Regions from separate parts of the Homo sapiens genome. Here all the other regions are linked to region 4. Evidence: fine-mapped QTL for protein levels in blood plasma. Region 4 holds a variant in brackets. A gene starts in each other region. All regions are shown on their forward strands.

Evidence for each region. PIP is the posterior inclusion probability: the model's chance that the variant is causal. The UK Biobank Pharma Proteomics Project read protein levels with antibody pairs (Olink). The fine-mapping took linkage between variants from a reference panel, not from the people measured, so its PIPs are less certain.
Region 1: CD248 starts here. The variant in region 4 is fine-mapped to the plasma level of the CD248 protein (UK Biobank, PIP above 0.99).
Region 2: it holds the start of CSPG4, and the variant in region 4 is fine-mapped to the plasma level of the CSPG4 protein (UK Biobank, PIP above 0.99).
Region 3: it holds the start of LTBP2, and the variant in region 4 is fine-mapped to the plasma level of the LTBP2 protein (UK Biobank, PIP above 0.99).
Region 5: it holds the start of CBLIF, and the variant in region 4 is fine-mapped to the plasma level of the CBLIF protein (UK Biobank, PIP above 0.99).

What each region holds. Positions count from the first base shown.
Region 1 is chr11:66,314,756-66,319,257 of GRCh38, forward strand. It overlaps CD248 (CD248 molecule), which reads right to left and starts at 2,289. Exons shown (of 1, transcript NM_020404.3): 1 at 1-2,289. The coding sequence starts at 2,272. RefSeq lists enhancers at 1,038-1,734, 4,291-4,502 and a silencer at 2,218-2,487.
Region 2 is chr15:75,710,740-75,715,327 of GRCh38, forward strand. It overlaps CSPG4 (chondroitin sulfate proteoglycan 4), which reads right to left and starts at 2,109. Exons shown (of 10, transcript NM_001897.5): 1 at 1,929-2,109. The coding sequence starts at 2,016.
Region 3 is chr14:74,610,826-74,615,310 of GRCh38, forward strand. It overlaps LTBP2 (latent transforming growth factor beta binding protein 2), which reads right to left and starts at 1,412. Exons shown (of 36, transcript NM_000428.3): 1 at 626-1,412. The coding sequence starts at 1,119. It overlaps LOC101928352 (a long non-coding RNA gene), which reads left to right and starts at 2,360. Exons shown (of 2, transcript XR_944029.4): 1 at 2,360-2,470; 2 at 2,742-3,223. RefSeq lists an enhancer at 1,468-2,095 and a silencer at 1,723-2,042.
Region 4 is chr1:109,925,521-109,930,108 of GRCh38, forward strand. CSF1 (colony stimulating factor 1) reads left to right here. Exons shown (of 9, transcript NM_000757.6): 9 at 3,332-4,588. Among named protein-coding and RNA genes, the nearest start is that of CSF1, 17 kb to the left of the region's middle. The variant G/A (reference allele first, on the strand shown) is at 2,622.
Region 5 is chr11:59,842,795-59,847,382 of GRCh38, forward strand. It overlaps CBLIF (cobalamin binding intrinsic factor), which reads right to left and starts at 2,705. Exons shown (of 9, transcript NM_005142.3): 1 at 2,581-2,705; 2 at 1,085-1,261; 3 at 234-347. The coding sequence starts at 2,659.

The DNA of each region.
Region 1 (4,502 bases), not on the chromosome of region 4:
ACACGCTGGTTCTGCAGGTCTGCACCCCTGTGAGGCTGCCCCTGGGGGGCATGGGTTCTGTTGGGCTCTTGCTCCCAGCATGGATGACCCAGCGATAGCAGTCAGTGATGCGCTTGTTGGGTGCATGGGGGCCACAGCGGGTGCAGTACACGATGCCCAGTGCAAGCAGGACCACCAAAAAGACACACGTTGGCACCAGGAGTGCCACCAGCAGCCACCGGTCATCCCTCTGGCTGTGCTCGGCAAGACCAGCCTCCCCCAGGGCTGTTGGGGCTGCTGTGGGAGCTGGTGAGGGCAGCCACAGGGCCAACTTGGGACTGGGGCCATCTTCCCTTGGGATTTGGGGGGCTTTGGAATGGGGATGTGTAGGGCTGATGGGTGAGGTCTGGTTAGTGGGGCTCTGAGAGGGCAGGAGGGTGGGGAGGGCTGCGGGCTGGGTGGCAGCAGGCACAGAGATTTGATGGGCAGGAGACACAGGGGACCTGGAGGTGGTGGTCAGAGAGGGCTGGGCAGTTGGGATAATGGGAAGCTGGGTGGCCTGGGTTCTGAGGACAAGGGCATCTGGGGCTTGAGGGGGTAGCTGGGCACCGAGGGTGGTGACCAGAGGGGCATGGTTAGGTGGGATTCCAGGCAAATGAGTGGTGGTCTGGGTGCCAGCGACCCGGGTGTCTGGAAACATGGGGGACTGGTGGGCAGGGAAGAGCTCCGGATATTTGGTTGAGATCATAGGGGGCTGGTGGGCAGGAGGCTGTGCTGAATGAGAGACAGAGAGAATACCGGGTTGGTAGGCAGAAGGCAGATCTGGATAGTTGGCTGCGATCACGGGGATCTGGTGGTCACGGGACAAAGCTGGGTGTGTGGCAGGGATCACAGGAGGCTGGTGGGCAGAAGGCAGTGTGGGATGCGTGGCAGAGACCACCACAGGCCGGGTGACGGAGAGCACTGAGGAGTGGTAGGGGACCCTGGGGGCACTGAGCGGGGGTGGCCAGGTGGGCTCCGGGTAGGGTATCTGTGGCTCTCTGTCCTCTGGGAAGCTCGGTCTATAGGCCAGGGCAAAGTCAGGCGGCTGCGTAGGCTCCATCCACAGGATCCCAGGCATCTCCGTCCAGCCACCGTTGAAGGCCTTCCAGGCCTCGTCTTCATCTTCCTCATCCTCCCCGTCATCCAGCAACTCATCTCCGAGGTCCTGGGAAGCCTGGGCACCCATGGCCCCTGCAGGGCTGCAGCTGATGCCATCAGCCTCCAGCTCATGTCCCTCGCTACAATAACACTCGAAGCCACCAACGTAGTTGACACACATCTGCTGGCACACACCGGCAATCTGGCACTCATCTGTGTCCACACAGCGGTGCGGATCATCCTCCGCTGGCCGGAAACCCAGGCGACAGTGGCAGCTGTAGCCTTGTGGCCCACCGGGCTCACACTGCTGCTCGCACGGAGCCTGGGCACAGGGGTCCTCGCAACTGCGCCCGTCTGCTGCCAGCCGGAAGCCCTCAGTGCAGCGGCAGGACACGTGACCATCCACCTCCTCCACACATTCGTGTTCGCAGCCCCCGTTGTCAGGGCTGCAGCCAGTCCCCAGGCACAGGGGCCCAGCCCGTGACCAGCCCACACCTCCCTCAGGCTGCTTCACGCAGAGCAGAGAGGCTCCCCTGCCAGCCTGGCACTGCACAGCGGCCACAGAGCCGAAGGGCAGCCACTCAAACTCTGTGGAGACCAGGTGGAAGGGCGTGGTATACACGGCTGGGCCGGCCTGGCCCGCCTCATCTTGCAGCGCCGGGCAGGCGCCCTCGAAGCCAAACTGGCACAGGTAGCCGTCGACAGCCAGCGTGCACGAGCCCTCCAGCCAGCGGTGCTCGCCACTTGCCTCCAGGGCCACACAGCGCTGGGCCGGGCAGGGGCCTCCAGAGGCTGGCTGGGCCCAGTTGGTGAAAGCCGTGTCCTGGTCCCCTGTGGTCCACGTGAAGCCGCGCAGTGGGCGCTGCAGCTGGCATTGCCGGGCCTGCCGCTGCAGCCCGATCCACAGCAGCCGGCTGGCTGGGCCCGCACCCACCAGGCTGTCCACACGCTGGGCCTCCTCGGGGGTCCGAGGAGTGGCCAGGTCGCCCCCCAGCTCGCGGCAGGCCCGCCAGGCCTCCAGGAAGGTGCGGCGCCGTGGGAAGAGAGCGTAGCAGCTGCTGGGGCCGCAGGCGGCACGGGGCTCAGCAGCCCAGGGGTCCTGGCCCAGTGTGGGCCCTGCGGCCGCCCAGGCCAGCAACAGGCGCAGCAGCATCGCGATGCCCCCGGACTGGTCCGGCCCCGGGCTGGCGGCAGCTCTTGACAGGGGGAGGGCCTGGGGCCTCCTGCGGGCGGGCCGGGGGCGGGCCTGGGGCCGGGCTCAGGCCTTGTAAGGAGTGGGCTGGGGCGGCTGCCAGCTCCCTGCTCCCTCTTCCCCGGGGGCCGCTAGAGCAGGAAGCAGTGGGGTGGGGGGCTCTAAGGTTGGGGGCGGAGGAGGGGAGAAGGCGCAGTTGACGGCTGCCCCAGGCCCCATGGGGCTGAGAGTCAGGGGGTGGGAAAAGCCTGCCTGCCGAGCTCTGTGACCCTCAAGTTGGGGCTCGGGGCTGTGGGGTGAGGTCGCTTCCCAGAGACTCAGAGACCCAAATCTGGACACAGCAGCCCCATCACACCCGGGAGCAGTCTCAGCCCAGCTGCTCGCCATGCACGGGAACACCCTCATGCCCACTCCTTTCTTGCCCCACAGACGCGCGCATGCGCCTCCCCCACCCCCAACCCCATGCAAGAGTGCACTCTCTGCCAAGCTGTTTGTCCCTTCACCTCACCGTGGACCTATGCTGGCTTGCAGATGACTCCCTTGCCACACGTACACACATTCTGACATGCTGAGACCCTAGGTGCACATACAAAAATGGTGTGGCATTCTACATGGCCTGACATATGAAGACCTCCGATTCGGCCTGAATGGAAACAGCTTGGTCACCCAGGCACAGGCATCCTCAGCCTCTCATTTATTTACTGAGCCCCTGCGTCAGCCTCTCCCCCTATACTCAAGCTTTCTGGTTCCAGCTGGGCCAGCGTGTGGGGGTGTTGGGGGAGTGAGGGGGCCAGGGGCTGCCCTCCCCTCACCCCAGCTCAGCCTGGGGCCCTGGGAACCTGGGCTTAGAGGGGGAGGAGGCAGCCCCTAAACAGGAAATGCCTCTCTGGGCTCCTGCGTCAGGAAGGCAGGGTGCGTGGTTTAGGGGGCTGGGTGGGGGCTGGGCTGCACGCAGGATGTGGAAGGCTGTGAGGGGACCCATGCAAGGCCATGTATGGGCATGGGGCACACAGTGACATATATGTGTATATGTGACACAGGCATCACGTGTGTGGAGCCCTCCCTGCCCCCGGGGCCTGCTGTTTCGGCCTGGCCAGGGTCCTCTTCCCGCCCTTCCTGGAGGCCTCTGGAGGCATGTGCACTGAGCCCATCATCCAGGATGGCCTCTGGGGAGCTGGCTGGCGGATTAACCCATGCACACCCGCTGCACTCTTAGCAGAAGTTAGAAACAGTGTGGGGAGGTGGGGGAGAGGTTCCGCCCTTCAGTAAACTGCCCTGATGCAGCTTCCCCCTCTGCCACAGATGGATCGACTTTGTGACTGCAGGGGAGTCACTGGCCCTCTCTGGGTCTCCTTTTTTCTCAGTTGCAACATGAGGGCAATGAGTCCAGGATTTTTAGCTCAGCAGGGCTGAGATATTGCGTCACAGCGCTCAGTGTTTGCAAATGTGCTTTGTCAGCTGTGGAGCCTGAAGCAAATGTTCCTGTCTTCTGAGCATATGTGGTGGGTGGAGACCAGGGTGCGTTTTTGCAAACCACCTTACAGTGCCTAGGCTGGCCCTGCAGACCCAGCCAGCCCCTCGAGAACCAGGGCTTAGGAAGTTCTTGCCATATGCCTGGAAGTTCCTTCTTACAAGGTCTATACATGTGAAGCACACAGAATGACTCCCCTTCTCAGGAGACAAAAGTCAAGATGGAGGAGTTCATCCTTCTGTTGGCTCAGGCCCCAAACCTTGAGGTCATGCTTGACTCCTCTCTTTCTCCCACAGCCCACATCCAGTCTCTCAGCAAATCCTGTTGGCTTCACTTTCAAAAGAGATCCAGAATCTGACCACTCCTGGACACCTTCTTTGCCACCCACCCCCGGCCCAGGTGGCTAGCAACGCCAATCTAGATTTCCCCAACAGCCTCTCCCGTGGTGTCTCTCTTGCCCTCTCCATCCTGCCAGAGGGATCCTTTCAAAATCCAAGTCAGATCTGATCACTTCTCCATTCAGAACCCTCTGAGCCCCCCATCTCGCTTAGAGGAAGGGCCACAGTCCTTGCCATGGCCTCCTGGTCTATGTCATCTGCCTCCAAACTCTGGCCTCATTGCTGTTCCTTAAATGCTCCAGACACTCTGCCTCACAGCCTTGGTCTTGGCTGTTCCTGCTGCCTGGAATGCTCTTCCTCCAATATAAAAATGCTCTGCTTC
Region 2 (4,588 bases), not on the chromosome of region 4:
TCAGGCAGGGGCTGCCCCTACTGCAGAAATCAGGGCAGGCAGCTGGACCAGGAGTGGTGACAGAGATGGGTTGCTGGACGGGAGCTCTCACAGCCCCTCCTCATTTCCGAGTCCTCCTAAAGGCAGGGGATGGTGTAACTTTATAAAACCCCACAGCACCATGCTGCTCTCTTGCCCTAAAACCCTTGTGGCATCTCCTTTGCCAACAGGGCATAAGGCCGTGGGCTTCATTTTGCCATTTAAGGCTTCTGTGCCCCAGCCCAGTGGTTCTCCCTGGCCTGTGCTCGAAATACGCCTCCCAGCCAGGCTGCTGGCCTTCCTGTCTCAACACCCCTCTGCTTACGCCCACCTTGGTGCCTCTGAGTCAGCGCCCCTGCCTGGAGGACTGACTCCCTTCCCATCCACCAAGGCTTGGTTTGAGGCCCACCCTGTGTCCTGCCCCAGCTTGCCCCTGCTTTTCTCCCCTCTGTACTTTTCATCCAGATTTTTGCTGTTTGAGATTTAATTTGCCTTTCTGCCTCCTGAATGAGTCTCAGTTCAGCCTCTCAATTTCCCGTGCCCCTGCGAGCCTAGCACCATGCCTGCATGCTGTCAGGGCTAAGAAGGTATTTGAGAATGGCTCTCAGTTGAAGCCCAAGGAGGTGGGGGTACTGGAATCCCTCCTTGGCTGGAGGCTGGGGCCTGAATGAGCTGACCACCCTGGTCACCTTGGATGCTCCCTTCCCATCTCCCTGGCGGCCCAGCCCATCCCTCAGGCCCTGAGATCTTAGGGGATCTGGTCCCTGCAGGAACAGGGAGCCTGGAGATCCAGCCCTGATTCACCCCGCGGGGGTCCTCCCTTGACTCACTTCCCTTCTGGGAACCATGTGATGCCCTCTTTTAGAGCTGGCTTCTCCATCTGAAGGAGAGAAGGGTGTGGCCTGGGCCCTTGTGAAGGAGGCTCAGGCCCTGCCTTTGCTCCATGTTGCTCTTGGGAATGATCTCGAAGGTGTAGCTGAAGCACTGAATCACACGTGGGTAGTGATGATGGATGGGCCCTAAGGCCACAGTTCTTATGGCATAACTAGAGCTGCCTTCGCTGAAGGAAGAATGCTGTCATGTTGGGGTTTCTGGCATCGGGACAGAGAGGGGATATATCCCAGCACTTCTCGGAAAGCGAACTTCCATTCAGCCTCTGCTGGGTCAGGCATCAGTGCTGGGATGAGGAGGTGTGGCAGGGGGTGGTCCAGAGCTATCTGTAGGACAAGCCCCGCTGAGGGGCACCAGCTCTCCCTCTAGGAGGCTGAGAGTGGGTAGTGGGTGGGGGGTCCTGCCTGTCACCAACAGGAGGAGGGAGAGGAGAGAATGAAGAGGGGAGGTGGCAGATAGACGGATCTGCAAGGAAGCAAGGGGAGGAAAGAAGGGGCAGAGCTGGGGGGCAGCTGGAGGGGTGTGGGGGTGCTCCTCACAGGGGAGGGCAGGGTGGCTCATTCCTCGTTTCCCACCTTGTAGCACTCCCCATTCCTGGCCCAGGGCATCTGAAGCTGGAGGACCCACTTCTCACTGTCGCCGGGTCCCTTTGGACCCCAACATACTCACCCCAAACTTGCCTGGCAAACAAAGCTCGGCCAGCATTGGGGTGGCCCCACTGGTGTCTCAGACAATCCAAACGGGCAAAGCCACGCCCTAGGCAATCCATGCCTGGGGCGCCTGCTCCCGCCCCTAACTGGACAGCCTTGGCTAGCTAGAAACCCCATAACCTGAGATAGCGGGGTCCCGTGTCCGCCCCAGGATTGAACCCCTGGCGACCCCAGCTAGTGGTGGGAGAAGCGCAGCCTGCTTGACTCCCGATCTGGGGGCCACTTCTGGCTCCTCCTGTCCCTTTTCCCTCCCGGAGGAACCCCTCTAGTTCCGCCAGGCTGGGTCGGGGTCTCAGGCCCCTCACTCACCCGCGGATGCAAGTCTGGCCAACATAGTCAGGGTCAAAGCCAAGGCCAGGCCGGGGGCTGGAAGTGGGGGCCGCGGCCCGGACTGCATCCCGGCGGGCTGGGCGGCAGGACTTGCGAGGAGCCAGCGGAGTCCTGGGAGCTGGGAGCTGAGTGGAGCGAGCGCGGCTCTGCTCCTGGGCGCGGGCCGGCTCCGGGTGTCCGCGCACTTAACTCCGGGGGCGGGGCAGGCGCAGACCCGCGCGCCCGCTCGGGTTTCAGGCTTGGACTCCCCCACCTGCCCCCACCCTCAACCTTCTTAAAGGGCCCGTGCGGGGCTGTTCCTCTCTGGGGCAGGGGTGAGGGGGCCCTTGCAGCTGGGCCAGACCCCAGCCCCACCCTAAAGACTTAGAACAAAGTCATAGAGAGGCCCAGACACCCTGAACTCTGGCCCCAAGAGCCGAGCCCGGGAGACCCCCTCAGGGAGGAGGCATGAACTGTCCCAGCCCCTACTTCCCTCCTTTCTGCCTTTGCGGGAGTTCAGGAGACCCCTCCACAGGCACACTCCAGCCTTAGGAGGAAGGACAGACACCAGCCACCCTCACAGGCGGCTTTTGGGCTGCTTTGCCTCGGAGGTCCCCTAGGAACTTCTCCAGACTCCAGAGGCACCACCCGAGGTCCTGTGGGGCACTGCCCATGGCTGCAACAGTGACCTTCTCTGCCTGGAAGGGCCTCACCTCAGTCTCCCTGTCTGTAAGGGAGAGATGTCTGGATTTCCTCGCAGGGCAGAAGAATTCTCAGTCCCGCCATGACATTTGCCTCAAAATAACCTTGCAAGGTGGGTGAGGAGCATCCCCTCCCCCATTTCATGGAGGACGAAAGTGCAGCTCAAGCTGAAAGTGGCTCTTACAAGACTCCAGGTGGAAAGTAGGTCCCTGGCCGTTTGGTGCCAGAAGCCCAGGCCTCCTGACCCCTGAATCCGGGTGTTTCAACTTCCCGAGGCTGCCTCCTGGAAATCTGGCCCTGGATTTGGCTTCTACCTAACAGCTTCAGGCTGGGGCCCTTCTGCTGGCTCCCTTCCAGGCAGCAACATCAGCCTAGTCCCAAACAGGAGGAGAAAGGGCAATGTTACTTAGCTTCCGGTGCCTAGAGGATCTGCGTGTTCTCTGTCCAGTCCCAATGTTACCGGGCCTTGGTTTACTTCCTCCATTCAGGTCCCTCCATCTATCTGCTCCAGCCCATCTCCAGCCCAACCCCACCTTGCACCCTCTTCCCAGCTCTTCCCTTTGACCAGTAACAGCCCAGCACTTCATACTTTGCAACGAAACTGAGACCTGTTTTGCAGATGAAGAAACTGAGGCTGAGAGAGATTAAGGGACTGGAGCTAGTCTACATAGCTGCTGAGATGTGGGGCCAGGTCTTTGACCCTAAGTGCAGTGCTCAGGTGTGATGGTGCCTGGTCCATGTGGGGGTTATGAGTATTGGTCTTGAAACCAGAGAGACCTGGGTTCAAATCCCAGCTCCCTTACTTGGTTGTCAAACCTTGAACAAGTCCCCTCACCTCTCTGTGGCAGTTTCCTCATTTGTAAAATTGGGTTAATGAGGATTAAATGCTTTAATGTACCTCAAGTCCCTAGCCCAGGGCCTGGCATACGGTAGGTGCTCAATAAATGCTTATCCTTTCTCCTCCGTCTCTGTCATCCTGCACATTCCCTGTGATTCATGGTTTACATACAGCTTTACACATATCACCTCCCTTGTTGTAAAGCTTGAACTTTCTCCTCCAGAGGCTGCTGCATACAGTAGGTGTACAATAAATGCCTGCTGTAGTTGACTAAGAAACCAATTGCTGCTGTTCTGTAGGGATTTTGGCAAACCTAAGAGCTTCCATCCAGGTGCCCTAGGAGGCCTGGGATGGAGGCTGTGCTAGGCTGGCCTCAGTGGCGGTAAAGGCATTGATTCCACAATTTGTCCCTTGTTTTTTTTTTTTTTTTTTTTGAGACAGAGTCTCGCTCTGTTGCCCAGGCTGGAGTGTAATGGCGCGATCTCGGCTCACTGCAACCTCTGCCTCCCGGGTTCAAGCGATTCTCCTGCCTCAGCCTCCTGAGTAGCTGGGATTGCAGGTGTGCACCACCATGCCTGGCTAATTTTTGTATTTTTAGTAGAGATGGGGTTTCACCATGTTGACCAGGCTGGTCTTGAACTCCTGACCTCGTGATCTGCCCGCCTCAGCCTCCCAAAGTGCTGGGATTACAGGTGTGAGCCACCGCGCCCGGCTGTCCCTTGTTTTTCCTTCTCCTCAAGTCGGTAGGACACCTGGTCCTCATTAGGGGCTAATTACTGACAAGCTATGGGGCTGGGGGTGGGGGTGCTGCTTGGAAGACTGTGTTTGGAGGAAAAGAGCTTTCTTTTCAGGAATGAAAAAATAAGACAGAAGGCTTTTTGCTCTATGAATCAAAAATCTGGGTGAAGATCTCTGCTGGCCCCATCTCCCCCCCCCACCCCCTCCCCATCTTCCCTGCTCCCCACCTACACAGATGTCTGTGGAGCCTCCAGACAGGGTGCTCCCACCCACAGCTGAGATTCAAGTCTGGATTAGCTGGGAGCCTCCCCCTGCCTTGTTGCTAGCTGGGCAGAGAAACACAGGCCTGGAAAATAATGGCAACCAGCACAGCGGTAATAAC
Region 3 (4,485 bases), not on the chromosome of region 4:
GCGCCCACTGTGTCGCAGCCTCATCAGGACACGCTTCCCGCCCAAAGTACCCAGAGCTCACGCCCACGCCCGCATCCAGCCCTCAGCGTGCGCAGGCCGACCCACGCCCCACGACACTTGTCCCGACGCACCAGCTTCGCTGCCGGCTCCCCTCCTGGAGACGCATCTACCTTCTCTCCATGGGGCCCCCGACACCTCCGCCAACCCGCGCTCTGAGCCAGCTCAACCTCCCCTGGGCGTCAAGAGCCTGGAGCGCCCACCCTCCTGCCCTCTCCCCGCTGCCTCTCAGATCCCGGCAGCGCTGCAAGAGTCTACAAGAGCTCGTTAGTTGCAGGCAGGAGGAACGCGGGCGAGTGGAGAGGCGCCTTGCGAAAGGATTTAACGTCGGGGCTCCGGGAGAGTTGGTAAGAAAGGATGAGGATGATGATCTATCTGCCTTCAACTCTTCGAAAGCGGATCAAATCTTCCAATCCCGATTTTGGAACCTCGGGGCTGTTTCCCGAAGTACTAAAGACAGAGGGACGAGGGTATGAGAGCGGCGCCCTCTCCTCTCGCCTGCACGCCCCTCCACAAATGAGCCCTGGCTCCCCTCTGTACCCTCCAAACTTCCCTCTCCCATGCTCACCCCGTGAGCCGCCCTCGCGGCGGGGTTGGGGGCGCAGCCCCAGACCGCTGTGGGGTCCCCAGGCGTGGGAGAGCCGGCGCGGCCCGGGTCCGGGGTGCTGGTTGCTGCTGGCCCAGGGGAGTGCTTCTCCGGGTCTGCGCAGGTGGCTGGACACGCCGCGACTGCTGCGCGCGGGACGGCCTCCTGGCCTCCGCCTCGGTGGGCCTCCTGGGGCTCCCCCAGCCCGGCTGGGCCCGCTCCACGGGCTGCAAGCCCGCGACAGGCGCGTCCTGCTCCCGGAACAGACTGTACACCTTGGCTGCAGCCGCTGCCGGGTAGCTGCCCCCAGGGCGCCGCAGTCGATTCGCGTCTCCACCAGCCGGCTCGTATCTCCCTACGGGGTCCCTTTGGGCATGACCCGCGCCCACGAAGAGAGCCAGGGTGAGCGGCAGGAAGCCTCTCCAGGGGTTCCGCAGGGCGCGCCCCGGGCTGCGGGCTTTGGTCCGCGGCCTCATGGCGCGGGGCGGCTGGAGAGTGGTGCGCGCGGGCACCGCGAAGAGCTTTGTGGTCGGCACGCTGGACGCCCGCGGGCTGTTCTCCCGGCCCCGCCCGGCGGCCAGCTTCTCTGAGTCTAGGGGGCCCTGAAGCGGCCGACTGGGGGCCCGGCTCTCGGCGGAACGAGGGCTGCGCGCCCCGAGCCTCGAGTCCGCGCTCCTACTCCAGCTGGGCTCGCACGGCTGCTGCACCTTCGCGCCTCCTCCCTGTGCCTGCAGCCGTCTGAAGGGGACCCGGACGGTTTTATTTTTGGAAACCTCCCCCGGCTTTTTCGTCTCTTTTATCCACACCAGGCCCCCTCCTCGGAGGGACAGCTCAGCCCCCTCATTACCGGAGAGGGAGCGAGGAATTCCAGCAACACCCACTTTGGCACCGGGAAGCCAGCGGGCGGCGAGCGGGCGGCGAGGGGGATTAACCCGTGCGGAGCAGGGGGCGGCGCGGGGCTGACCCAGGCGCTGGTCGGGCAGATGGCGCCTGCCACGACCGGGACACTGGGCCGCCTTTCTCCTGCTCTGGGCAAGTTCGAACTGCAGACCTGCCCCGAATCGTTCTCCCGCCCCTCGCCTCAGGGACCGTCTTTGGATCGGGGGACCCAGGCTGCAGCCTTGCAGGTCTGAAGGAAGCCGGGAGGGGCGCCGAGGCCCGCGTAGGGGAACAGGGCCGCCGCCCCCTCCGCTTGCGCCCTGGCCGCTGGGGGCGCCCTCCGCAGGGCCGGCCGGAGCGGGGGTGGCGCGGGGCGGGGCGCGGCGCGCGGAGCGCAGGGAGGTCCCGGGCGCGCCCCCTGGCGGAGCTGGCGGCCCTGGCGCTCCGTGGCTGCAATGCCCTGGCGCCGCCGCCTTCGCTCTGGATCTCAATCCCCTTCCACTGGCGTGAGGGTCACGCCTGAGCCTGGCGCGGTGATGGCTGCCGGTAGAAGAGGGGTCCTCTTTTTCTTTTTCTTTTTCTTTTCTTTCTTTCTTTCTTTCTTTTTTTTGAGACGGAGTTTCGCTCTTGTTGCCCAGGCTGGAGTGCAATGGTGCGATCTCAGCTCCCCGCAACCTCCGCCTCCCGGGTTCAAGCGATTCCCCTGCCTCAGCCTCCCTAGTAGCTGGGATTACAGGCATGCGCCACCAAGTCTGACTAATTTTGTATATTATTTTATTTTTTAGTACAGACGGGGTTTCTCCATGTTGGTCAGGCTGGTCTCGAACTCCCAACCTCAGGTGATCCGCCCGCCTCGGCCTCCCAAAGTGCTGGGATTAAAGGCGTGAGCCACCACGCCCGGCCAAGGGGTCCTCTTTTTCACCGAGGCAAAGACACGGAGCCTCTTGAGTAAGTCACTCAAGGAGATAGCGCATGTGAAAGAGGGGAGTGGAATCTAGGCCTCCCGCCTCTGGCTGAATCCATTCCCGGGATCCCACCCAGCCCTTCACTCTCTCGGGAATTTCCCAGAGGGGGATTCGGTGACCCCGATTGACCCAGTGTGTGCATTCACATCTTGTGTTAGCAGGGAGGCGGGCAGGGGTGTGGGAATGCTGACTGCCGCTGTCTGCGTGTCCCCAGTAATCAGCACACCATTCTCACCCATGCTCCCTCCCTACAGCCTAAAGGCTTGGATCAACAGGGCTGCCCCTGGCACATTTGTACAGCCTATTTCCCAGAGAGGCAGAGTGAAGGAGCTGGCATGTGGGCACCAGTTCACAACCTCCCACACCACACAAAAGACAAGCCCAGGTAATATCTACTGTTGAAATAAAGCCTCGACCCCTGGCCTTGGCCTACAAACCCTAGCTGGCTGCCCCCGCTCTGATTTCATCTGGCCTCTTGCTCTCCCTTACCCACCACACTGTGCTGCCTTGGCCCTCTCTCTGCTCCTTGAACAAGCCAAGTGAATGCCCCCTTCCCTCTACTGGAAGGTTCCTCTCCAGGATGTTAGAGGGTAGTTCCTCATCACTGCTCCTCTCAGATTAAATATCAGCTCCTGGAGTAGCCATCCCTGACCTCCAATCTAGAGCAGCCCTCCCTCACCCCAGTCATGACTCTAACACACCACCCTGTTTCATCTTCATAAAACAGTTGACATCATCTTGTTATTGATTTGTTTGCTCGTGTAACTGAATTTTTTAATGGGCTGAACCTAAAGAGGGACTATCCAGAAACTGCTCCACTACTACCTTCAACCATATTATGGTAAATTTCCCTTTCCCACCCTTAATGACATCTCAGGCAGAGTCCTTGGCTTGAGAGGTCATCCCTACCAGACACGAGAACTATTCTATTAATATAATTAAGACCCATTTTCAGACACAAAAAGTCTGCTCCTGTCCAGATCAAAATCTCATCCAAGTTAATCAATATCACATCCCATTTAATAGTCCTCCTCTCCCCTGTCCCTTTGCTAGAGATCCTGCAGTGGTGAGAGTGGGGTGTGGTCTGTTTTCCTGACCTCCCTTTTCTGCTGTGGCTCCTCTTTGTCAAGGCTGGGAGAGAGGTGTTAGAGGAAAAGTAGCAAAGTCTTATGTGACAGGTACCCTTGGTTGGCAGGTGCCAAGCGCTGGCTTTTTCATGGGCACATATGTGGGTTTTTGGGAGGTTCTCTACAGGACCTCCACCCTGAGTTGCCATAGCAAATTACTCTCTGGCCAACCTCTCGGAGACCCCTGCATCCTCTGTCTCTCATAGGACTGTCCCACCTATGCCAGGCAAAACAATGGTGGGTTGGCCGCTCCTCACCCTGCCCACTTCTCACCTTGCCACACAGGCCACTCCAGCGAGGCTCCACGATCAGAATTCTCCAGACAGGAAGTGCACACAAGTCTCTTCATTTATGTACGTCCTCAATTCCTAAAGACATATGTTGGGTTCTCCCATGAACTGTCTTGCTGTAGTTTAATGCACCGAGGTGCCTGTAACATCCAGCAACATAGTCAGCATCAGTGGGGGGACAGTTATAGGGACAGAGCCTCCTCTTCTTGCAGATGACTGGTTCTCTCTGGGAGCTCCCTTCATTTGGTTTGAGTTGGGGAGTTCCCTCAGGGGAAATCTCAGCCCTGCCCACAAATGCAGCAGTGTTATGCTTCAGTGACTTTCTTCAATCCCTTTCATTTGTAGACTGGAATTGAGGGATGTAGTTTGATTGCTGTTGAACCTGTTCTGCCTTTAGTAAGGTGTCTAGTACTTCTCTTCAGAATGCAAGAATATTTAGCCCTCATTGTTCTATCTTTGTGGCTTCAGCAGATATTCCAAGAGCAGAGGAAAAGTCCTATTCAACAACCTATAAAATCATTTCTTGTCTGACTTCCCAAACCACAATGACAGCTCTAAAGCAACAGATATCTTGTCTGCGT
Region 4 (4,588 bases):
TCTTTACCCTCCTGGAGAATCTTCAGTAGCTCTGTGTGGCAGCCACTGCAAGCCCTATATTCTTGGCTTGGCTGCCAAGCCCCTTCGACAGCAGCTGCTTGCCAGATCGCCACCCCCGCACCAGTTAACCCTCCTCCCCAGCTGAGGTCAGTTCTGCTTCCTTGCTTTTAGGATCATGTTGACATAGAACCTGAGTCTTGGAAGGGCTCTCAGGGGTCATTTGGCCCTGGTTCCCACCCCAAAGGGACTGCCCCTCTCCATGTCCCCAACAGGGAGCCAGCCAGCTGGCTGTCACACACTCCCAGATCCAGCCCAGCTCCCTGCCTAGCCACAGCCCATGCCATCTTCCAGTCAGACTGGGAGAAACGTCTTCCTCATGCGAGGCAAAACTGGCTTCCCTGCCCCCTCCATACTGCTCCTCCCTCCTGTTCTCATGAAAACCCTCAGATATTTCAAGTCAGGTATCCATGTCCCCTTTGAGAATTCTCTAAGCTAAGTATGGCCAAGTCCCTCAAACGTTCCTTATATGATATGGTTTTCAGACCCCTCACCATCCTGGACACACTCGTTTGTCAATGTCCCTCTGAAAATGTGACGCCCAGCCCCGGACACAGTACTCCAGATGTTGTCTGACCAGCTCAGAGAGAGTACAGTGGGACTGTTACCTTCCTTGATATGGACAGTATTCTTCTATTTGTGCAGATTAAGATTGCATTAGTTTTTTTCTTAACAACTGCATCATACTGTTGTCATATGTTGAGCCTGTGGTCTATTAAAACCCCTAGTTCCATTTCCCATAAACTTCTGTCAAGCCAGACCATCTCTACCCTGTACTTGGACAACTTAACTTTTTTAACCAAAGTGCAGTTTATGTTCACCTTTGTTAAAGCCACCTTGTTGGTTTCTGCCCATCACCTGAACCTACTGAAGTTGTGTGAAATCCTAATTCTGTCATCTCCGTAGCCCTCCCAGTTGTGCCTCCTGCACATTGATGAGTGCCTGCTGTTGTCTTTGCCCATGTTGTTGATGTAGCTGTGACCCTATTGTTCCTCACCCCTGCCCCCCGCCAACCCCAGCTGGCCCACCTCTTCCCCCTCCCACCCAAGCCCACAGCCAGCCCATCAGGAAGCCTTCCTGGCTTCTCCACAACCTTCTGACTGCTCTTTTCAGTCATGCTCCTCCTGCTCTTTTGTATTTGGCTAATAGTATATCAATTTGCACTTATTTGGATGTTGTTTTCATATTTTTTAAAATCTTATTTTATATGTATTGTACATTCCACATCCCTAAGATTGTAAGCCCCTTGAGGGCAGGGACTGTCTTCCACTTTTTTTTGTGTTTCTTTTTCCATCCTGGGTTCTACTAAGAGAGGGCCTCTCCACATTTGCCAAACATGCAATAAATGTTGACTGACTGGCTTCAGGGCTGACTCACGGACTGACCCTGGCCAGCTGTCTCTAACTGACCAGCCTCTAGCTGACCAGTTAACCAGCTAACTGACTGACTCTGACTGACTGGCTGACCAGCTGGCTGGGTGAATGACTAACCAACCAACTATCTTGGTAACTGCCTAACTGACCAGCTGTTGCTTGGGGAGCCCATTGAGCAACTGACTAGCTGATTGCCTGACTAATTGGCTGGTTGGCTGACTAGCTGGGGTGACCCAGTCAAGTTTCCAGTCACATCCTTTACCAAGTGCAAGCCAGTGCCGCAGGGCTCTCCCATGTGTGGAGTGACAGGTCTGGGCCCCTTCTAGAGAGATAGGGAATTTGGCAAATGCTCAAAACCAGGGGAACCTATTTAGACAAGAACCAGCAGTAACAACATATCTGGAATCCTGGGGTCTACCTTGTCAGTGGGGTGGGCTAAGATGGGTGAGTGGGTCAGCTGGGGCACTGGCAAGACTGTGAAATGACCCAGGCCTCCTCAGAACTGGTTGCTGGTGGCTCAGTGCCACAACACCCTTCCCACGGGTCGTCTGTCCCCAAACCCCTCGCCGTGGTCTTGGCCCTCTGTCCCACCCCTCTACACGCCCACCCTCCTTTCCCCACTTGCTTATTCTCAGGCCCGTCCCAAGCTTTCCTCTTCCCCCTCAAGATTTCACTTGGAGAGGGAATCCAGGGCAGGGGCTACATCCAGATCCCACTTGGCCCGGCAGGTCCAGCCCTAAGGTGGTCTCCAGGCCAGGCACCAGTGGCCTTGGAGAGATTGAGTGCCAGCCCCTAGAGTGACTGCTGCTGTGATTTGAGAAGTGAGAGAGAGAAACATAGAGGCAGAGACTGAGATAGGGACTCAGAGCCACAGAAAATGCAGACACCAGCACCTCAGCCCTAAGCAGCTAGAAGATGGGGCAGCAGGCTGGAACTCGCTCACTGGGTCCTTCTCCCCTCCTGGGCCCTAGCTGGGCCTGTGGCCTGGCTGTACCCAGCATGGCTCATGTCCAGTTTATGGTTCCCCTTCTTTCCCTCTAGAGCATGGGAATGGGCAGGGAGCCAGAGGCTGTGGTTCCATCTTCCCTCCTTACCCAGTAGGGCCTATGGATGTTAGGGAGGGAGGCTCCACACAAGGTCCAAAGTCAAACTGTTGGATGGGGTCCAGGGGATTTCTGCTCTGGGAACAAA[G/A]CGTCCTGAGGATGCTGGGCAAGAGGACAAGGATGGGGGTGGAAGGCGAGAGGACAAGGCCCTGACTCCCATGGATGATGCGGGAGGCAAGGCCCTCGGCCCATCCAGGAGGGGCTGGGTTGCTTAGGGGTCGCGTGCCAAATGACAGTGTGGGAATTTCCTTGTCCTGGCACTGCCTCTAGACTTTTCCTCTCTGGCCCAAGTTGTTCCTCTTCAGCTAGCTCTGCCCTACTGTCTTGAACATCATATGTGATGCCCCTCTGATGAAATGAAAGATTCTTCTTTGCTAGTGTTAGCAGGAATCACCCTTTGTTCACTGGACCAAGGCCAATGAGATGACCTCGCCTGAGGAGGGGTCCAAAGACATTCAAGTGCCCGCTTCGCTCCTTGTCAGAGCCCTCTGCTTGAGCAGTAACCCCTCTTCCCAGCCCTGCCCAGACCTCTCCCGGGCCCCGTTATCTTCCACTGAGGCCCTGATTCCCCAGGAGGAGGTAGGAGGTGAGGCCAGTTGGGCCAGAGGCCTGGGCTGGTGCCAGAGAAAGCTGCCTGGTCTCTCTGTGGTGTCTGGAAAGGCCAGGGAAGGGAGGAAAGGAAGTCCTGCCTGCAGCACCGCCAGCAGCCCACAGGAATGCCACACCTCCCAATCCATGTCCTCAACGACCCTCCCCGCATTCCCACTCTGCTGACTAGCCTTTCCTTCTCTCCCACAGCTGGACGCACAGAACAGTCTCTCCGTGGGAGGAGACATTATGGGGCGTCCACCACCACCCCTCCCTGGCCATCCTCCTGGAATGTGGTCTGCCCTCCACCAGAGCTCCTGCCTGCCAGGACTGGACCAGAGCAGCCAGGCTGGGGCCCCTCTGTCTCAACCCGCAGACCCTTGACTGAATGAGAGAGGCCAGAGGATGCTCCCCATGCTGCCACTATTTATTGTGAGCCCTGGAGGCTCCCATGTGCTTGAGGAAGGCTGGTGAGCCCGGCTCAGGACCCTCTTCCCTCAGGGGCTGCACCCTCCTCTCACTCCCTTCCATGCCGGAACCCAGGCCAGGGACCCACCGGCCTGTGGTTTGTGGGAAAGCAGGGTGGACGCTGAGGAGTGAAAGAACCCTGCACCCAGAGGGCCTGCCTGGTGCCAAGGTATCCCAGCCTGGACAGGCATGGACCTGTCTCCAGAGAGAGGAGCCTGAAGTTCGTGGGGCGGGACAGCGTCGGCCTGATTTCCCGTAAAGGTGTGCAGCCTGAGAGACGGGAAGAGGAGGCCTCTGGACCTGCTGGTCTGCACTGACAGCCTGAAGGGTCTACACCCTCGGCTCACCTAAGTGCCCTGTGCTGGTTGCCAGGCGCAGAGGGGAGGCCAGCCCTGCCCTCAGGACCTGCCTGACCTGCCAGTGATGCCAAGAGGGGGATCAAGCACTGGCCTCTGCCCCTCCTCCTTCCAGCACCTGCCAGAGCTTCTCCAGGAGGCCAAGCAGAGGCTCCCCTCATGAAGGAAGCCATTGCACTGTGAACACTGTACCTGCCTGCTGAACAGCCTGCCCCCGTCCATCCATGAGCCAGCATCCGTCCGTCCTCCACTCTCCAGCCTCTCCCCAGCCTCCTGCACTGAGCTGGCCTCACCAGTCGACTGAGGGAGCCCCTCAGCCCTGACCTTCTCCTGACCTGGCCTTTGACTCCCCGGAGTGGAGTGGGGTGGGAGAACCTCCTGGGCCGCCAGCCAGAGCCGGTCTTTAGGCTGTGTTGTTCGCCCAGGTTTCTGCATCTTGCACTTTGACATTCCCAAGAGGGAAGGGACTAGTGGGAGAGAGCAAGGGAGGGGAGGGCACAGACAGAGAGGCTACAGGGCGAGCTCTGACTGAAGATGGGCCTTTGAAATATAGGTATGCACCTGAGGTTGGGGGAGGGTCTGCACTCCCAAACCCCAGCGCAGTGTCCTTTCCCTGCTGCCGACAGGAACCTGGGGCTGAACA
Region 5 (4,588 bases), not on the chromosome of region 4:
GACAGGTGATGGCTGGACAAGCTTGTGTCCTTGGGATCATGACCTTTTCTAGTTCATTTTGGATTGGAAATGAATCTTTCTGGTCTGGATTATCAGAAGGACCAGAGTGAAGGATACATTGTCTCTTCCCTAACTTGCCTTTCTCTCCACCCCCACCCTTTTCCTTTCTGGGTTTAAAATTCTTAGGTAAAACCATATGCCTGACTCTTTTCTCCCTTCCAGTCAGGTCTTACTGGAAGGTGCCCAGTTCTCCATTTGTCTTTGTAGAATGGATACTTTATCCCCAGGGTCTCGGCAGGAGGAGGTGAGGGCCATGATGGTGAGGCCGAGCTGCCCAATGGTTAGATCTGCAGAGAAGAGAACACAACGGTTAGACAGAGACATCCTCAGGGGACAGCTCTCCAGGAGCCAGTGATGAGTTCTCTGCTTTTTATCTAGAGCATTTTGACTTTTTAATAATATGAGCAGTTCTTTGATCTGTCTTTCCAAAGAAAAAAATATGGAAGAATACGTAAGGGAATATTTAATCTAGTGGCCTCTGTGTAACTTGATGACTCTAGTATTTGGTATTTGAGAATCCCTGGTATTTGATTAGAAAAGCAGCAAAATACTCATATAGATTTATATACAGAAATTTACAGTTGCAAAATAATTTAAACTTTATCTAACTTGAGCCTGCAGGCAGCTCCTGGGAGATAGGCAGAACAGAGATTTTATTATTATTATCATTGCTATTAGTAGTAGTAGGGTTATTGTTACTACAATCATCTGCAAGGTGAGGCTGAGCAGTATCCAGTGACTTGTCTCAGATCCCAGAGTTATGACGTGGCAGAGCCAGAACCAGAAGGCTGCTCTTTCGACGTCTAGTCCAGAGCTCTCCCTGCTTTACTGACCTCCTCCATGAATGCTCTGACTTCACACATGTTTCTTTCCAGGTACCTTCCAGGTATGTAAGGAAAGGTGTTTGGGTAGTTTATTTACAGTCAGAGGCAGCATTGGGGTGGGAAGGACGCTGAGTTGGAATCTGGAGGTGGTATGTGATGTGTGAGATTCAGGGAGAGTGCGAGCGGCTCAGATGTCTCACCGTTGTTGTCGCTGGACATGAGCTGGTAAGTCAGGAGCTTCTGGGCCTTCAAGTTGTAGGCTCCGGCCAGATTCATGGCAATCAGGATGCTGGGGTTTGGGTAGGCTGATGAAGTCACCGAGTTCTCCATGAGTACTTGTATTCCATTGACCAAGGGCTCCTGTGCTGAGGGAACGGCTGAGAAGAGGAAAGCCATTTACTCACCTTCTAACCCTCATTCCTTCTCAAAAACATTATCCCCGTGTCTTTGATGCTTTTTCTTTCTTTCTTTTTTTTTTGAGACAGTGTTACTCTTGTTGCCCAGGCTAGAGTGCAATGGCACGATCTCGGCTCACTGCAAACTCTGCCTCCCAGGTTCAAGTGATTCTCCTGCCTCAGCTTCCTGAGTAGCTGGGATTACAGGTGTGCACCACCACGCCAGGCTAATTTTTGTATTTTTAGTAGAGATGGGGTTTCACCATGTTGGCCAGGGTAGTCTCGAATTTCTGACCTCAGGTAATCCACCCTTCTTGGCCTCCCAAAGTGCTGGGATTACAGGCGTGAGCCACCTCGCCTGGCCATCTTTGATGCCTTTTAGGAGAACACTTGATTAGCATTAGTGTCCTAAGTCACTAAAGAGAAATGGAGAAAATGGTGAGATTTTACTTTTGAGGACAATTAGTTTCTACATCTTCTCAAATAATCCATATCCTTAAGAAAGTGATTTTTAAATTTAGTAACTTCAAGCAATATGGCTCATGACATTTCTCATAGTTTCTATCACTTTCCTGGAAATCACTGATTTCCTTGCATTCATTTTTTTCCTTACTCTTTCATGAAGAGTATTAAAGATTTGGGATATAATTTATCCTCAGTGAGTACCAAAATCTCTCACTAGTATGTAGTGGTGTCTGGTCACAATAGCCACTGAGTGTCTGTCTTTGTACCATCAACCATTATTCCTGCAGTAGTACTTCCATCTCTATTATTTTTATTTATTGATTTTTTGAGACAGGGTGCTGCTGTGTCATCTAGGCTGGAGTGCAGTGGTGTGATTATAGCTCACTGCAGCCTCGACCTCCTGGGCTCAAGCGATTCTCCTACCTCAGCTTTCTGAGTAGCTGGGACCACAGGTGCATGCCACTGCGCCCAGCTAATTTTTTATTTTTATTTATTTATTTTTTTTGTAGAGATGGAGTCTCACCATGTTGCCCAGGCTGGTCTTGAACTCTTGGGCTCAAGCAATCCTCCTGCTTCAGTCTCCCAAAGTGCTGGGATTACAGGTGTGAGCCACTGCACCTGGCCCCATCTCTCTTAATAAAAAACATATAGACTTGTCTCTCAAAGAACTTATGCTATTAAGTCAGGAAGGATGAACAGCACACAATCACACTCAGACTTACCCATTTTGGAATTCCTATAGTGATTGCTATTTTCAACCACTCAGTGTCAGAGGTCACAGCCCCTTCCCCAGGGCAACTGCTTCCCTGACCTCCTTGGAAAAACATCATACTCACAGCATGAACTCTGGGTCTGGGTACTAGTCCCAGCTGTAGCCCAGAGAAGGCTCAGGAGGTAGAGGGCAAACCAGGCCATCTCACTCTCTCGTCTATGTCTCTCATCCACAGGTACCGCGATTTGCAAGTGGAATATTTCTTTACCTTCTCTTATATGTGCTTCCCTTTGTTAAATAATCTGTCCCCAACCCAGCCTCTCCTAACTGCCCCTGTGCTGACCTCTCCTTTCCTGATACAAGTAAGTAAATTTTCATTTGCTTATCTAAGTTTACCGACTATAGACCCTCCAAGGTGTCTGAAGGTGACTTCTAGGTTGCACAGTCATATGAGAAACCTGGGGCTGGGTATGCAGTGAAGGCAATGTTGAGAAAATGTCCTTTACCAAAGGCCTGGGTCAGACATCAGGAAGTTTGGATAATGTGCTAGTATCAACAAGACCTCTTCTAGCCCTTATTGTATCCAATCAGTTACCAGGCTGCTTTTTAGTAACTACTTCACTGGGATTTAGGCCATTCATAGGCATCAGCTCATTTTATGATCCTAGACACCTGCTTTACAACATGTCCTTTTAGGCTCTCAGGCAGGGATCTGCCAGGTGACATCTGGCTTTGTGAAATTAATGATGTCTACCTGGACCTGGATTCTAGCCTAGACTCTTTGAAGTTGTTTGACTTTAGGCAAGAAATGGACCTCGGTTTCCCAGAAATGGTTTTGTTTGATTTCTCTTTCCTTATCTGGAGATAAAAGCCATCTCAAACACCCAAAGCTTTCAGATATTATCTTTTAAAGTAAGTAATTAGAAAATGTGAGATCCATTAAGAATACATATTTCAGATGTGTAGCTACATTATAATGCAAATTATACTTCTTTATAAGGGAGAACTGAAAATGGTATGTTGAAATTATAAAGAAAGGAGTTTTGTTTGTTTTTTTCCTGCATGTAAAGTAGCTCATTTTAAGGGGATATTCTCCAGTGGCGCCCATCTTAGCATAAAAGTCAAAGCCCTTTTCATGACCTATAAGACCTTAGAAGATCTGGCTCCTGGTTTCCTTTCTGACCTCAGCTCCAGGCGTTTTCCCCTTTGCTCACACCGCTCCCATCACACAGAACTTCTTGTGCCCCTTGAACACATCAGCTACCTTTGCACATGATGTCCCCCTCAGCCCAGGACCCTCTTCTTTTAAATAGCCTCATGGTGGCTTCCTCACATCCTTCATGTCTCTGCTCAGAGGTAAGCTTTTAGAGACGCCTTCCCAGGCCACCCTACATAAGATCCTACATCCTCACCTCCACTGACACCCCTCATGCCCCTCGCCTGCTATAACTCATTGCCCTCTGTCGCACTAAGTGTGTGGTTGTTTATCGTTTGTTTATCTCCCTACTAGAATGTCTGCTCCACGAGGGAGGGGCTTTGTCTCTTTGGCTCACTGCTCTATCCTTAGCCCTTACAACACTACCTAGCTCACAGTAGAAATAAAATACTTTTTGAATGAGTGAATTAATGAGCAAATGTAAGACATGGGTAATAAAGCATTTTTTCCCCCTTGGGAAACATGGGTGAGTTTTGTGAGATGAGAGCACAGGGTACATACTGGGGTGTGCTGGACAACTTCTAACATGGCCCTGTGTTTTCACCTCCCGGTATTCATGCCTTGTGTAGTCCTCTTCCCTAGAGTGTGGGCTGGCCTGGGGCCACATTCTATTATAATGAATATAATGCAGCAAAGGTGATGGGATGTGGTTGCAAAAGACCGATTTCCCTCTTGCTTGCCTTCTCTCTCTTGCCCTTCCTGCTCTCATGAAGGCAGCTGCTAAGTGTGAGCTGCCTTATGGAGAAGCCCACATATGGCCCCTGAGAGTAGCCTCCAGCCGATATTCAGGGAGAAAAGAACCCTTCCCCAGTGAGCTTTGAGATGAAGGCAGCCCCAGCTGACATCTTGATTGCAGCCCTGGGAGAGACCCTCCTAAGCCAGAGGACCCATGTAAACCCTCCCTGGACTCCTGACC